Linked DNA regions of Homo sapiens: region 2 is linked to region 1. A link means that fine-mapping ties the variant in region 1 to the expression of a gene that starts in the linked region. Tissue or cell type: whole blood. Region 1 holds a variant in brackets; the other region holds the start of a gene. All regions are shown on one strand. Distances are from middle to middle.

Region 1 (8,102 bases):
TGGGGTTGCGGGGACAACTAAGAGACAAGGATTGGCCTAATGCACAGGAGTCAGGAATGAGGAAATGGCCAGGCGAGTCTTCCCTTCTCCTGCGTCCTGTTGTATTCCCACTGAATCCAAGCAAAAACCCCCGGAAATAAGAAAAGAATTATGTGTGTGTACTAGAAGTACTCAAAAGCAAGCAGCTACCTTCTCGAATTCAGCAACCCCTCTCCTACTGAGGTGGTACAGTCCAGACAGGCTTCCAGCGCAGCCAATTACCGACGACTATCGCCGCTTCCTGCTTCAGCCCCTTCGCGGCGGATTGGCCAACCATTTGGCGACTAGGCCTCCCTCTTCTCCTTCCCATCTCCTTTTTTTTTTTTTTTTTTTTTTTTGATGGCAAAAACTTTATTTAAAACAATCTTGCTGGAGAAATCTTCAGTCCGGCGAGGTCGCTGGTCCGGGCAGAATCCAGGGCGATGGAATGGTCTGGGCTGTGTCTCCCACATGAAGGGGACGCCCGGACTTGAAGAGCCAATGTAGGGCGAGGCTCCTGCCAAGGGCCGGGGAGGGAGATGAAGAAGAGCAGGCGCCAGCCTTGGAGCCGTAGCGCTAACCGTGAGAGGGAAGCCTAAGGAGCGCGCGACCTGAGGCGGTGGCAGCACCCTCCCGCCCCCGGAGTGCGAGCCGGGAAGTGAACTCCCTGAATTCCATTAGTTTCCCACTGTCACACGTGGGATGGGCGCCCGCATCCCTCACCTCACCCAATCCTAGAATACAAAGCTAAAAGCAAAAGGTTCTCTAGAATAGCTACTGTCCCTGGCGAGCTAACTCTGCATAGGTCATAGTGCTACGCTTTGCCCTGATTAGCCCAAGACAGCTGTGAACCCAATAGCAATGCCCCATGTTCTCTCCCCATTCGGCTCGAGGCTATTTCTTTTTTCGAAAGCAACTCTAGCTATTACATAATGGTCCCTCAAAAAGGTGTTTCACAAGCCACTTCCCTGAAGCCGAGGCCCCTCACCTGTAAAATCCTGAGGACTGTCCTCGGGTTTGGTCTCAAATGTTGCTGGCTTTACTGTGGTTCTGACACTAGCATTAGGCAGTAAGGTAAAAGAGAACTACCTTCTGTTTTCTGGAATCTAGTTCCTTCTCTGACATGGCATATATTATAAGTTCTAGTTTATTCTTGTTAACAGCGTCAATCCAGCATTTATTGCAACACACTTGAGAGTTCTTTATAACGACTTTATATTTTTAAAACAGACCTGGCCTGGCGTGGTGGTTCACACCTGTAATCCCAGCACTTTGGGAGGCCAAGGCAGGCGGATCACGAGGTCAGGTGCTCAAGACCAGCCTGGCCAACATAGTGAAACTCCCTCTACTAAAAATACAAAAATTAGTCGGGCATGGTCGGGGGAGCCTGTAATCCCAGCTACTCGGGAGGCTGAGGCAGGAGAATTGCTTCAACCCGGGAGGCAGAGGTTGCCGTGAGCCGAGACCACACAACTTCACTCCAGCCTGGGCAACAGAGCAAGACTCCGTCTCAAAACAAAACAAAAACCTCTTTAGACCATATGAAAGGTAAATTATTGAAGATACAATATTGATATTTTATTTTTTACTTTTTGAGAGGGAGTCTCACACTGTCACCCAGGCTGGAGTGCAGTGGCGCGATCTCAGCTCATGGCAACCTCCTCCCGGGTTCAAGCAATTCTCATGCCTCAGCCTCCTGAGTAGCTGGGATCACAGGCATGTGCCACCACACCTGGCTAATATTTGTATTTTTAGTAGAGATGGGGTTTCACCATGATGGCCACATTGGTCTGGAACTCCTGACCTCAAATGATCCTCCCACCTCGGCCTCCCAAAGTGCTGAGATTACCGGTGTGAGCCACAGTGCCCGGCCTGATATTGGCATTTTCTACCTGTAAGCCATGTTTCTTTAAGATGAAGTCAGCTTTCATTTTTCTGTTGCAATATTTTTCTTGGATTTTTAGACTTCCTGATTTCCTCCACAAATTAGGCATTTTTATTTTCCTTTCAGCTGTCTAAGAACTTGTAAATAGTGGTGTCTCTTGGCTAGACAGTGCTAAATGGAAAAAAAAAATCAGTCTTCCACCATCCAACCAAACTAAACTCCCCTGGGATACTAACTTGGATTGCCAAGCTTTGTTAGGTGGATGAGCACTAACAGAGGTATAATCACTATCCCAAAGTTGAAAGACAGAGATTCCACTTGTCCAGTTTTCCTTGGGATCACTCAAGATATTTCTTGGAAAGAACGTTTAATAGAACATATGGTTTAAAGTGCCAGCTACTTCTGAAAAGTATCCAGAGTAAAATCTAGGCTAAAACAGTATGATATCCAGACCACCCAAACTTTAAATTACTTTAATATGTTAATGGCTTCTCTCATCTGCGCATCTTTGTTCATCTTGCTCACCACACTCTTCGGCTGCCTGGACTTAGACCCTCAGTAGCATGGGCACCTAAGCACACAGAAAGCTAGAACATGCATTTCCCAATTTTTGTGTTTTTAGGGTTTCACCATGTTGGCCAGGGTAGTCTCCAACTGCTGAGCTCAAGTGATCTGCCTGCCTCGACCTCCCAAAGTGCTGGGATTACAGGTCTGAGCCACTGCTCCTGGTCAACCTCTTTGTGTTTAAATACTGCTCTTTCCTCCTGTCCTTGTGAAATGTCTCTGTATGTGTTAAAGGGTAGTTCTTCCCTTTGTGCTGTGGATCCTATCTCCTTCGCTCCTGCATTTTTTCTGGTGCTGGGGGATGGAGTCTTGCTCTGTTACCCAGGCTGGAGTGCAGTGACGCGATCTCAGCTCACTGCAACCTCCGCCACCCATGGACAATTAATAGCTCATATTTAACACTGCCAAAAACCTCGAGTTTCCCTTGTCCCTCAGGGGGACAACTCCCTGAGTTTTCCCAATCTCATGTCTAACCTAGTGTGTCTTGTTAAAAAAAATCCAGGATGCATCCTTGATTCCATCGTTTTCCTCACCACTCCGTTATGAAGTCCTGCCTTCAGAATATCCTCTCACCAGCTCTACCTCTGCTGCCCTAGTATTTCATCCCCCACCATTTCTCACATTTGCACTTTTACAAAACTCTCCTAATTACTGTCCTTGCTTTTACACTTGCCCTATAACCCACTCTCCACAAAGCAGTGATCTTTTCAAAATGTAAAGTAATCAGCCAGGCTAATCCCAGCACTTTGGGAGTCCGAGGCGGATGGATCACTTGAGGTCAGGAGTTCGAGACCAGCCTGGCCAACATGGCAAAACCCCATCTCTACTAAAAATACAAAAATTCGCCAGGCATGGTGGTGCATGCTACTCAGCTACTCAGGAGGCTGAGGCAGGAGAATAACTTGAACCCAGGAGGCAGAGGTTGCAGTGCACCGAGGTCATGCCACAGCACTCTAGCCTGGGCAACATAGCAAAACTCAGAAGGAGGGAAGGAAAGGGGGAGGGAAGGGGAGGAGAGAGGAGAGGAGGTGAGGGAAGGAAAGGAAAGGAAGGAATAGGAAGGAAGGGGAAGGAATGAAAAAGAGAAGAAAAAAGAGAGAAGAAAAAGAGAGCAGGAAGGAGGGAGAGAGGAAAGAGGAAAGGAAAGGAAAGGAAAAGAAAGGAAAGGAAGAAAGAAAGAGGGAAGGGAGGGAGGAGATCAGCCGGGCGTGCTGGCTTACGCCTGTAATCCCACACTTTGGGAGGCCTAGGCGGGCGGATCACCTGAAGTCGGGAGTCGGAGACAAACCTGACCAACACGGAGAAACCCCATCTATACTAAAAACACAAAATTAGCCGGGCATGGTGGCGCATGCCTGTAATCCCAGCTACTCGGGAGGCTGAGGCAGGAGACTCGCTTGAACCTGGGAGGTGGAGGTTGCACTGAGCCAGATTGCGCCATTGCACTCCAGCCTGGGCAACAAGAATGAAACTCTGTCCCCCCCCAAAAAAAAAAAGATCAAATAATTACTCTACTTAACTACCCCTCCCCTCTGGTTCCCATTGCTCTTAAGAGTAAAATCCATTCTTAAACCAGGTGCTGTGGCATGAGCCTGTAGTCCCAGCTACTCAGGAGACTAAGGTGGGCGGATCACTTAAGCCCAGAAGTTCAAAGCCAGCTTGGGCAACATAGTGAGACACGCCCCATCTCTTTTTTTTTTTTTTTTTTTTTGAGTCAGAGTTTCGCTCTTATTGCCTAGGCTGGAGTGCAGTGGCGTGATCTTGGCTCACGGCAACCTCCACCTCCCGGGTTCAAGCAATTCTCTTGCCTCAACCTCCCAAGTAACTGGGATTACAAGCATGTGCCACCACGCTCAACTAAATTTTTTTTGCATTTTTAGTAGAGATGGGGTTTCACCATGTTGGTCAGGCTGGTCTCGAACTCCTGACCCCAAGTGATCCAGCCACCTCAGCCTCCCAAAGTGCTGGGATTACAGGCATGAGCCACCACGCCCGGCTGAGATCCCTATCTCTTAAAAAGAAATAAAAAATCCTTTTCTTTTTTTGAGACAGAGTGTCCTTCTGTCACCTAGACTGGAATGCAGTGATGCAATCTCGGCTTTCTGCACCTCCACCTCTTGGGTTCAAGGGATTCTCAGACTCCTGAGTGGCTGGGGTTAAAGGCATGGCCACCACCCATGGCACCTGGGCCAAAAAATCCATTCTTCACCGTGGTTTACAAAAGCCCTACATTATCTGGTCTTTGCTGCCCCCTCCAGCCTCATCTTGTACAGTCTTTCTTGGTTCACTAAGCTTCAACCACACTGGCTTTTCTCTTCACCAAACTCATCAAGCTTGTTCCTTTATTAGGGTTTTGCAGTTTTTTCTCACCAGGAAGGTTTTGCCCCAGACTTCACACAGCCATTCAAGTCTTAGCCCAAAATGTATGCTCAGGAAGGGCCTTTCCTGACCACCCAATCTAAAGTAGCCTCCAGTCACTCTGTCTCATAT[C/T]CCCCAAATTTAAGTCTCTGCATAGCACTTGCCTTTTTAAATTTGTTTATTCTATAATGTAAGCTCCATAAAACTTTTGTCTGTCTTGTTCCCCATCTACAGTGGCTCCTGACAAACAGTCAGTCCTCAGTAAACATTTATGAAAAGAAGGAATGGATGAATGGCATCAGATACTTAAGTAATCCAAGTGCAAACCAGGGACACCAAACAGTCATTTGCAAGAGATCAAAAAGAATGGGCTTTCCCAGTTTCTTACCACCTGAAAGCTTAAGTTACACTTTGACTTAGGGCCTAGTTCCAATCAAATAGACAAGGATAGCTGTACTGGAAGGAAAATGAGCTATCTCTGGAAAATGATTAGATATGAAATCTCATTCCAAGATTATCACCAGCCTCTAACTCCCCACAGTAAATCCAGCACTGACAGCAGATTTACCATCTACTTACCTAAGCGCAGAGGAAAGGTGAACTATCATAAGAACTCACAGCCGGGCACAGTGTCTCACACCTGTAATCCCAGCATTTTGGGAGGCCGAGGCAGGCAGATCATGAGGTCAGGAGTTTGAGACCAGCCTGGCCAACATAGTGAAACCCTGTCCCTACTAAAAGAAATACAAAAAATTAGCTGGGCGTGGTGGCGGGCACCTGTAACCCCAGCTATTTGGGAGGCTGAGGCAGGAGAATCACTTGAACCTGGGAGGCAGAGGTTGCAGTGAGCCAAGATCACGCCACTGCACTCCAGCCCAGGTGACAGTGTGAGACTCTTACAAAAACAACCACCACCACCACCAAAAAAAAAAACCTGACGTGGCTCACAGGTAGGTTTCTTGGTTTTCCCCTCCTCCAAGCATTTTAGCAATAAATCATTCCAATTATGTTTCTATAACGCTTAGGGGAAAAAAATAAATTATACCAACTTCTATGATATGGCAAAAATATTTATTAAAATGATTTTTTTTAAGTTTGAACTTTATTGGAAGGAGTCCCTCTAATTCACACTTTCATCCTAGATAAATGGGTAAGAACCACATATGGAATATAAAGCATTGATTTTTTAAAAACCACATAGTAGCACAGTGAAAGAAATGCAATTCTCCAGGGTCTTAGAGAATTCAAAGTGGCATCTTAGGTGGTCTAAGAAACCAATTACAGTCTCATGGTTTTCCTTTTGGTTCAAGATTAGAAGAGTCAGGTTACCACTACCTGTTTTTAGAGGTAGAATATGAACTTTCTACTAGTCCACAGTTTACTGGTCAGGTGGCCCCAACAGTCTTTTATCTCAGCCCATCTGCCTCTAGGGGTGGCCAGATGATCTCTATGTCCCAGGCAGCAAGGCTTCCTGCTGATCTCTACTTCAGATCCATGAACCGGATATCCATGATGAGAAGGAAGTTCTTAGGCAGTGGGCGAGGGGCTGGAGACAGAACAGTAAACACCTGATGCTCCAGGTCCACACTGGTCACCACAATGAAGCCAGCTACACTTGTCTCGGACAGGTTCTCCTCTGTACCCTCGGCAGTGCTAACACTCAGTAGGTGGTGCACCATATCTCGCCCAGGAGTGACAGGTACTAGCTTGAGCTGATTATCCTCTTGAGACATGCCCAAAGGTAAACAGGAGTCTGGGATGGTGGGTGCCCCAACTTTGTAGATTTTCACATCTGAAAATTTGACATTGAAGGCATGGGGATAGAAACAGCCTCGGAATCCATAAAAATACTCACGGATACGCTCATCCCTACATTCCCGCCGGAAGTCCTTGGAGCGCTCCACCACACCCCCAGATTTAGGGAGCAGCACAGTGCGTACAAAGTGGGGGAGGTCCCGTTTCAGTTCATTGTACAGTCGTTCTTGATCCAGAACAACAACGACATCCACCTCAAAAGCTGAGGCTGCATGCACCAGAGCCTGGTAACCAGAGCCCTTGACCCAGCCACAGGTGTTAATGACACAGCCACTCACAGATGCCCTTCGGTTCACCTCACACCTTTGGTTGAACACATCTGCTAAACGAGATGTAATCTGCAAAAGAGAGGATCAAGGTAAGAACAAAAACACCCAGACAAACCCATGGCTACTTTGTTCCTCTTTAGAATAAGTGCTATTAGATATAAGAAAAATGATTTTTTTTTTGAAATGGAGTCTCACTCTGTTGCCCAGGATGGAGTGCAGTGGCACGATCTCAGCTCACTGCAACCTCCACCTCCCGCGTTCAAGTGATTCTCCTGCCTCAGTCTCTGAACAGCTGGGATTACAGGCACCAGCCACCACGCCCAGCTACTTTTTGTATTTTTAGTAGAGACAAGGTTTCACCATGTTGGCCAGGCTGCTCTCCAACTCCTGACCTCAGGTGATCCACCCGTCTCAGCCTCCCAAGTTGTGGGATTACAGGCATGAGCCACTGTACCCAGCCTGAAAAAATGACATTTTTAATGGCTGTAGTTTTGATACCATAACATGGATTTAATTTTTATGTTGCTGCTTCTGCCTCCTGTTTTATGCCCTAAGTGAAAATCTAACAAATTACTAAGAATAGATCCACAGAAATGTTTAACAATCTGAGACTGACATATTTGGAATTGCCTTTCTAAAGTAATGCAGCAGAAATACCAGCTGAGAAAATGCAGTGTTAACTAGTAAACTTCTCCAGTTTCCTACCCTGATAGCAGCCCTTCCCTCCACCCCACCTTTCTCTGGCTCTGACCTTATTATAAAGCTTGATGTTAGTGCCAGGAGTGGTGGAACCAAAATGATACACCAGAGGGGCCTGGATAGAGAAACCCTCTTCGACATCTGCAGGCCGCTCGATGTAGAGGGCCCCCATGGTACCAGGGATGGACACAGAACCCTGGCCCACATCCAGCTCCACATAAGTGGGACGGCGGCCCAAACGCACTGCGTAGTTGAGCAGAAGGCGACACACTGTAGACTTGCCCACATCAGTGGGGCCCACTACCATCACTCGGGGACCTCGCTCTTCTTCCTTTTCCGCTTGCCTCCGCATCTGTTCCAAGGCTGTGTGAGTGTTGAGGTAAAGCAACATAGGAGTGTCCTTGGAGACATAAGCCACCTCAGTGCGGCCGCTCAGTTGCACAGAACAGCCATGCCAAGTGAAAACAGCCACCTTGGCACCAGCATCAAAGGTG
Region 2 (8,102 bases), 77 kb before region 1:
TGACACAGCTCTGCTGGAGCAGCCCTGTGAGGCTGAGGAGTACCGAATCACAAGTGCTGCTGCCACCAGTGAGCTGGAGGAGATCCTGGACTTCATGCTCTGTGGCTCAGACATTGAACCACCTATAGGGTCTCTGGAGAGTCCAGGGGCTGAGGGCTGCAGAACGCCTACCTACCATCTGACAGAAACAGGAAAGAACTGGATTGAAGGGGAAGAATGGTGTCTACCAGACATGGAACTCTGGCCCAGGGAGCTCACAGAATTGGAAAAGGAACCTGCTGGTGAGAACAGAGGGCCAACTGAGCTCCTTAGCCCCCTTGTCATGCCCTCTGAGGTGAGTGAAGTGCTTTCAGTAGGAGGCCGTTGGACACCAGACCTTGAAATTACCAGCTCCCAGCCACTGGATGGTCAGGAAGACAAACTTCTCCATGTCAGCTCCCTTGATACTCCCCAGAGGTCTTATGGGGACCTCTCACCTCCCTGCTCAAACTGGGTGGAGACTGGGCTGGAAGTCTCCTTGACTACAGATGAGTTATTATACCCTTCTCCCAAGGCAGGCAAGGAGGTATCTGGTCACTCTGAACTACTAGGCTCACTTCCTGCCAGCTCTGAAGAGGAAGAGATTGATGTGGTGGACTGGACAGCAGAGGGGAGGCTGGTACCCACTACTGTTCCCTCCGTGTGGCCTGACCCTTCCTCAGAGTCAGAAACAGAGGTAGATATACTAACATAGTGGAGAGGGGAGGGCAGGTTAGGGGCCTTGGGAGGGTGGGAAATGTTAGCTAGCAAAAGGCTTACTGGCAGAGAAGCTGGCACGTGCCCTCAGCACAAGAGGCAGGTGTACCCTGGCTCTTTGTAGGTCCCTTCCTCCCTTCCCTAAGCCTCAGAAGCCAGGCAGAAGCCAAGGGTACCATAGATAGAAAATTATGAACTTGTACCATCTTATTTGTAATCTATTTTCCGGTTAGTGACAACTGAAACAAACTGTGTGCTCCCCAATTCTGGTGGGTCATAGGTAACAGCCAAGGCCAGATCTCTCAGGTCATAAGGCATCCAGTCACTGGTAATTTAGGAAAAGCTGAGAAAGAACACCCTCCTCTGTGGTGGGGTATTGTTTAAGAAAATGTTCCAGAGGAAGGTGTGAAGCAGTGTTGGGTGGAATACTAAGTGGGTGGGAGTGATGGATGCTGTCCAGCACCCAACGTGGGGCTTATTCACTGCCAGTATTAGGAAGTCTAGCTAAAACCTCTGCAGGGGCCAAGAAGATGTACTTCCATCATTACTTCCAAAAAGTAAGTTGAAAAAGATACAGTTGCTTTTTTAAAAAATAAATTATTTACTTTGCTCCCATAATTTTTACAAGTATTTCTCATGTTTTACCAGAGATCATAAAAGTTGCAGGTCAGGCCAGGTGCGGTGGCTCATCATGCCTGTAACCCCAGCACTTTGGGAGGTCAAGGCAGGCATATCACTTGAGGTCAGGAGTTTGAGACCAGCCTGGCCAACATGGTGAAACCCCGCCTTTACTAAAAATAAAAATAAAAAAATTAGCCAGGCGTGGTGGTGTGCACCTGTGATCCCAGCTACTCAGGAGACTGAGGCAGGAGTATCGCTTGAACCTGGGAGACAATGGTTGCAGTGAGCCGAGATAGCACCACTATACTCCAGCATGGGTGACAAAGTGAGACTCTGGCTCTTAAAAAAAAATTTTTTTTTAAAAGTTCCAGGTCACATGGCTATCTTGGGCTATGAAAAACACAAGGACTACCAACTCCACAAGGCTGGCTTTGTCCATCCCTTAAGATTAAGTTTTACTCTATTACTCAAATACTTTATTTCAACTTTTATTAAACCAAATCCAGTAACTTTTACAATGCCTTACTAGAGGGTTGCCTCATAACTGAACCTTCATTTCTGGCAGGGAAGAAACCATGGCTTCAGGATCATGACTGAAGTTTGGCCATGTTCCATCATTAATGTTCCAACATCACCAGGGACACAAAGCTGCAAAAATGAGAAGGGAAATAAGGTTAGAGAAAGGATCTGGGCAATCTTAAGGACTGAGGAAGACATGTTCCCCAACCCTTGAACTCACAAACCCTGAAGCTCAAGGATTGCATCCTTCCTCCAAATCTCACTCAACATAATAAGTGCAGAACAACATGCCAAAGCACTGTATGAAGCACTAGGGACAAAGACAAGGTCAAAATCCTTGTAACCAAATTTAATGGTATTGTAATGCAGTGTTAACACAGGACAGTAACAGAACACCCAAGAACCAAACAGAAGAGGGTAGGGATAAGCATAAATGAAGTAACATGAAATAAACTTCCAAATGGAAAACTTGTCCATACCCCCAGGGCAAGTCAACTACAGTCTCCCAAAGGACATAAATTCCACTTAGGGCACACTAGACAGAAAACAATATTGTGTCTTTTTTTTGTTTTTTGTTTTCAAATAGGGTCTCCCTGTGTTGGCCATCCACTCCTGCCTCGACCTCCCAGAGTGCTGGGATTGCAGGCGTGAGCTACCCACGCCAGGTGGGTACTTGTAGCCACACCAAGATCAATGCCTTCTCTTCCTCAACAGCGGTCGCGCCCCCCACTTCCCATTTCAAACCTCAGCATGAGGGCTTCTACCCAAATCTCCCTACGACAGGTACTTCTTCAACTCTTCCACCACCTCTTGAGGCTCAGGGAATTTGAGTTTGCGTGGGGGCCCCTTCTTAATCCCAGTCCAGAGCTCCGCACCTGAAAGGCCAGAATGAAGCGAAGTTACAATACTTCGGAACCCACGAGCACGTCTCTGAAGTCATGAGACTGCCGTGGTTTCTAAGAATAGCGCTTCCTGTCTTCGGAACCCACGTCCCTTTCACCCACGTCCCTCTCCCCCACATCCAGGTCCCCACTTACTGCTGCCGTCCGGGCGCAGCAGCGTCACCTCGAAGCTGCCCCTCCGGGGCTTCGTCGGGTTCACCTTTACTGGAAGCTCTGGGGCCTCCAGGCGCAGCGCCTGGCTCAGGGCCGCGGCGTTGCGCCCATAGACGCGTCAGCTAGTGCTAGGGAGAGACGGAGAGGTTAGAAACCGGGGCCCCTGGCCCCCCCCGGCGCCACTGTTCCCTCTCTCCCGTTACTCTCCAGGCCCCTCACCAATGCTCGATAACAACGGTCGCCTCCTCCATTCCCTCCCCGCCGTTCGCCAGCTTCTCTCGCTTCTCGGCTACGGCGACCACCGCGGCCTCAGCCTTACGCTTCCTCCCGCGGGGAGCCATGGCGCCTAGAGCCCGGCCGAGAATGCAGCGGGACTGGTGGGTGGGGGGCGGAGACGCGACCACTGAGCGGAAACTGGGCAACGAAGAGCGCAGCCCGGAAGCTCTGCTCCTACAGCGGAAACCTCTCTCAAAGGAAGGGAAAGCTTGGCCCGCAGCACCCACGTGGCCTGGAGGCGGACCTTGGGGCACAACCACTTTGCAAGCAGGGAGCGGGAAGGTGCGGGAAGCGCCTGACGGAACCACCCATCGCTTCGGGTGGAGGGGACAGGGGACGCTGGGATGGTGAACACAGCAGGAAGGGGCGGAGACTAGGTCCGACTGCTAGCCTCGCTTCGCGCAATCTTTTCTGTACCTTTGCATGGCGCTAAATGTTGTGTGCCACCATCTGCCGCCAAACTCTCCTCCCTGGCAACCGCAGGCCAATCCCAGAGTAAACCCACCACCTAACAACATGTGGCCGCTATTCTAGATTTATGGAAACTAGACTTCTCCAACTCTTGCCAGTCCTGGGGATCAATGCCCGGCATTTGGTGAAACCAAATAGGATGGCCTTTGCCCTTAAGATGGGCAATTCCTCTGCAGTTGTCAGGCTTTTCTAATACAGAAACACACAAACGCGCAATCAAAAGGAAATCCCAATCTTTTTATTACGGAAAGCCATCAACTGGGTGTGGGGAGTATGTCAGAGGGTTAGTGAAAGTCCAGGGGATTTCTCCTCCAAGTCCTACCACACAAAGGAAAGTCTCAAGCCTCTATTCACCCCTTCTCAATCCCCACAAAATAGGGGGTTGTTCAATATTGTCTTCAATGATAAAAACTTTGTGGTTAAAGGTTTCTCCTTAGGACTAGCGACAAAGTTAGGCTTATACTTTTAATGAAGACCATAAACGAAGCCAGAAGGGCTTAAGGAAGCAAGAGTCCTTGGGGGAAAATTCTTAGCGTTCTATACCCCAGCATCTTACCTTAGGGTTAAATCTAGGTCTAACCAAGCTGTGCAGGTCAACTAAGAAGGAATGATGAAACCACAGAGTTTCATGGAGAAACCATGGAGATGTCTGAATAGCTGATAAGCAGTTAACACACTGACCCAAGCTTGGAGGGAAACCATTTCCCCCTCCGTCCTATGAGATCTCTTTCTTGCTCCAGTGAAACAGTTGGCCACAGCATGGCAGGCCTTCCTGTAGGGTGCCTGACAATTCCCTAGATGCCTCTTTAAAATCAGAAGCTGCATGCTGCCCCACCCAGTCACAGCCAAAGGGAAAACATAAATAAAAGGCTGCAGCCTCAGGCTTGTGGTTATGGAAAGAGCCTGGAATTGACAGGAGAGGAAGCACTGCCAAAGTGAGGATCTTATTTATCCTTCTTGTTTTCCCCATCTGACACTGTGGTGGGGGTTGAAGCCACAGGCTGCTCCTCAGGGATATTGTCTCCAGCCTTTGATAGTTTCTTGGCCCGCTGGTATAGCTCATTTAAGTTAAATTCTCGGATCACATTCTCCTGCACAAAAGAGATGCACACGTCAGGATCTGGGTTGGAAGGGAGAGTAAAGAGCCTGGGAAGTAAGAGGTATTTTACACAAAGTCTGGGAAAGGAAGGAGTAAGCAAAGGACAAAAATCTTCCCTAACCTTCCTCTTTTTTAGGTACCCAGAAAAGTCAACTAATAGTTAAATACCCATTATGTGCCAATCACCGTGCCAAGAATTATACCTAAATTATTTAATGTAATCTGCAAAACAACCCTGTAAGCCAGGGGTTATTACCTCCAATTAACTGACAGGGAACCTAACACCTACAGACAATAGGTGCAGTGGCCTTCGAGACAGAATCTTTTTTTTTTTTTCCTGATGGAGTCTCTTGTTGCCCAGGCTGGACCGCAATGGTGCAATCTCAGCTCACTGCAACCTCCACCTCCCGGGTTCAAGCGATTCTCCTGCCTCAGCCTCCCAAATAGCTGGCATTATAGGCATGCGCCACCACACTCGGCTATTTTTGTATTTTTAGTAGACACGGGGTTTCTCCATGTTGGTCAGGCTGGTCTCAAACTCCTGACCTCAGGTGATCTGCCAGCCTCGGCCTCCCAAAGTGCTGGGATTACAGGCGTGAGCCACCGTGCCTGGCCTGAGACCAAATCTTAACTAATGATTGTTACCCAGTACTAGCAGGTCTGCACATAATATATATTTGCTAAATGAATTAAAACATGAGGTCTAGTAACTAGTCCACACCCTCAAAGCTAATGGGCAAGTGGCAGAGCTGTGAATCAAACCCGGGTAGGGCTTGAAAGCCCACCTACTGTTCTGCACCCTTCATGCACCTGCCCTTCCTTTCAGGTACCTCAGAGAAGGTCCATGAGACAGCCCGTCCTTTCTTGTCAATCTGTGGCCGCCGCATTGCCTCCTTGCCACCTTGGAACAGGATCAGGGTAGGGAGTTGCTTGGTGAGGGGTGATGTGCTCACTTTGTACCTGCAGGGCCCAGAAAGTTCTCTAAATGTCCCTGTATGTATCACTCAAAGTGATTTCCCTGCTCAGACCCTCTGCCCAGGTCTTTACATACCGCGTACTAACATCAGTATAGCGTCCAACATCCACCTTCCCAAAATTTAGCCCTGTACAGTTGTATCTGAAAAGAATATATTATTTAATATGCTGAAAAAAAATAATGGATCAAGGAAAGTGGAAGTATAGATATTTAAGAGGGGAGAGGGAGATGCCTTTGGTTACCATGTGTGAAAATCAAGGCCAAAAGAAAAAGAAAAGCCAAAAACAGTGAGAGGGAAGGCACAGCATCTCCATTTCCACCATCCCTCCCTTTGCACTACTCACTTAAGGGAGAGGTCAGCATAGATAGGGGCAAATGATTGGCAGTCATTAGACCAATTGGCAAAGAACTCCACAATCCAAGTGACCCTCTTGTCCCGTTCTAGTTCCTCCTGCCAAATACAGGGAAGAAAAGTCAGCTGGATCCACATAGCCTCCTGGGAAGGTTCAGACTTTAGCATCTAATTCCTCATCCTGGTGTTCCCTCTCCCCCGGCTCTCATAATGAACCACAGTGCCCGTGACATCCATTTTGAAGCACTGTTGTTCCTCCTAGTGAATGGAGAGCACAACTACAAAATCACCCACAAGGGACCCAAGAAACAGAAAGGGGAAAGAGCACTCACATCAATGGTTTTATCATTGAAGTACTTGATATACTCAGGGCCCATATATAGGGGGGGTTTGCACGTCATCAGGAACACTAAATACAGAAAGAAGATGTCGAAGGAAACATAAAAAGCCTTACACAGGGAATTTACTTCCAAACCAACCCAAGGATTTCAGCCCCCAAATAATACACACTTGTGGATATATGTAGACCACCAACACATTCCCTACCTCTACAATAACAGTCTCTGTAAACTGTTATCATCTGAGCTACATATATAATTCATTAGGTATGAGATATGGAAGAAGGGTATGGAGAAACATGTTTGGGATTGCAACTGTTGGGACTGTGGTTTCCACAATCAAGTCTATCAACACAGTCTTACAAAAAAAAAAAAAGAAAGAAAGGCAGTCTCCTCACCTATGCAGAGTGTGATGTAAAGTAGGCCCATGCGAATATCCAAGCGGAAGAAAAGAATTGTGTTGGCCACTTTACTAAACATGAAAATGTTGCCTATATGTTGCTCCACAGTGACTGAAACACAGAGATGTCACAGGTCAGGCTGGGCTGTGCACTCCTATATCCCATTCTTTGTCCCTCTTCATGGGGCACTTTGAAATAGGAGACAGGGAGGGGATAGAAGTCCAAGTTCAAATTCAGCCTTGGAATTAAACGTAGGACAAATTTACCAAATGATTGCCACTCTCTTAACATGAAGCAAAGCACCTCCAAAGGGCATTAGATCTAACCTTGAGTCTGAGAAGTGAACTAAACTTACTGGATCTGCGGTTCTTCATCATCACAATGGCACTGAGAAACATCAGGATCTCCACTTCTCTCTGGAACAGAATCGAAGTATTATAACAGGAATGCAGTGACTAGAGCTAACTTAGGTGGGAAAGGGAACTAAATATGTAATAAAAACCAATAGCGATCCAAACTGGGAATGGGAACAATAAAGAACTGCAGTTAGGTAAGGTGTACGGGGATAAACATCAGTCAGAAGACCTGGATTCAGGTTCTACTCCTGCCACAAACTTGCTGGTGCTTTTCTTTTTGAGACAGAGTTTCACTCTTGTTGCCCAGGCTAGAGTGCAATGGCGCGATCTCGGCTCACTGCAACCTCCGCCTCCCAGGTAGCTGGGATTGCAGACATGCGCCACCACACCCGGCTAATTTTTTTATTTTTAGTAGAGACAGGGTTTCACCATGTTGGCCAGGCTGGTCTCAAACTCCTGACCTCAGGTGATCCACCAAAGTGCTGAGATTACAGGCACGAGCCACCGCGCCAGGCCTGCGGTGCTTTTCAACAAAGCACTTAATCCCTTAGCTTTGGTTTCCTCAACTGAACAGTATCTATTTCAAAATGCTACTGGGGGATTAAATGAGATAACAGATTAAAAAGAGTTGTATAAAGCATGATATGGTATAAAATCGTAAGATTATTAATATCAACTCAATGTGACGCTGGTAGAATAAAACTTTTCCAGGTAAGTTTTCTTGATAATAGCCCATTAATATAATATCTAGCTATTCCACATGTTTAATTTTTTTTTTTTTTTTGAGACAGTCTTGCTCCATCGCCCAGGCTAGAGTGCAATGGTGTGATCTCAGCTCACTGAAACCTCTGCCACCTGGGCTTGTGTTTCTCCTGACTCAACCTCCCAAGTAGCTGGGACTAC

Evidence for each region. PIP is the estimated chance that this variant, and not a neighbour inherited with it, causes the effect.
Region 2: SELENOH starts here. The variant in region 1 is fine-mapped to the expression of SELENOH in whole blood (INTERVAL, PIP 0.92).

Annotation. Positions count from the first base shown.
Region 1 is chr11:57,659,641-57,667,742 of GRCh38, reverse strand. It overlaps CLP1 (cleavage factor polyribonucleotide kinase subunit 1), which reads right to left. Exons shown (of 3, transcript NM_006831.3): 2 at 7,661-8,102; 3 at 5,878-6,978. The coding sequence ends at 6,307. Among named protein-coding and RNA genes, the nearest start is that of ZDHHC5, 4.4 kb to the left of the region's middle. RefSeq lists an enhancer at 1-577 and a silencer at 4,733-4,802. The variant C/T (reference allele first, on the strand shown) is at 4,958.
Region 2 is chr11:57,736,765-57,744,866 of GRCh38, reverse strand. It overlaps SELENOH (selenoprotein H), which reads right to left and starts at 3,376. Exons shown (of 4, transcript NM_170746.4): 1 at 3,150-3,376; 2 at 2,913-3,058; 3 at 2,620-2,750; 4 at 1,317-2,004. The coding sequence starts at 3,271. The coding sequence ends at 2,650. It overlaps TMX2 (thioredoxin related transmembrane protein 2), which reads right to left. Exons shown (of 8, transcript NM_015959.4): 2 at 7,199-7,259; 3 at 6,841-6,954; 4 at 6,437-6,513; 5 at 6,097-6,203; 6 at 5,828-5,893; 7 at 5,607-5,736; 8 at 3,894-4,768. The coding sequence ends at 4,622. It overlaps BTBD18 (BTB domain containing 18), which reads left to right. Exons shown (of 3, transcript NM_001145101.3): 3 at 1-1,353. The coding sequence ends at 733. TMX2-CTNND1 (TMX2-CTNND1 readthrough (NMD candidate)) reads right to left here. Exons shown (of 21, transcript NR_037646.1): 2 at 7,199-7,259. RefSeq lists enhancers at 2,865-3,034, 3,185-3,234, 3,555-3,674.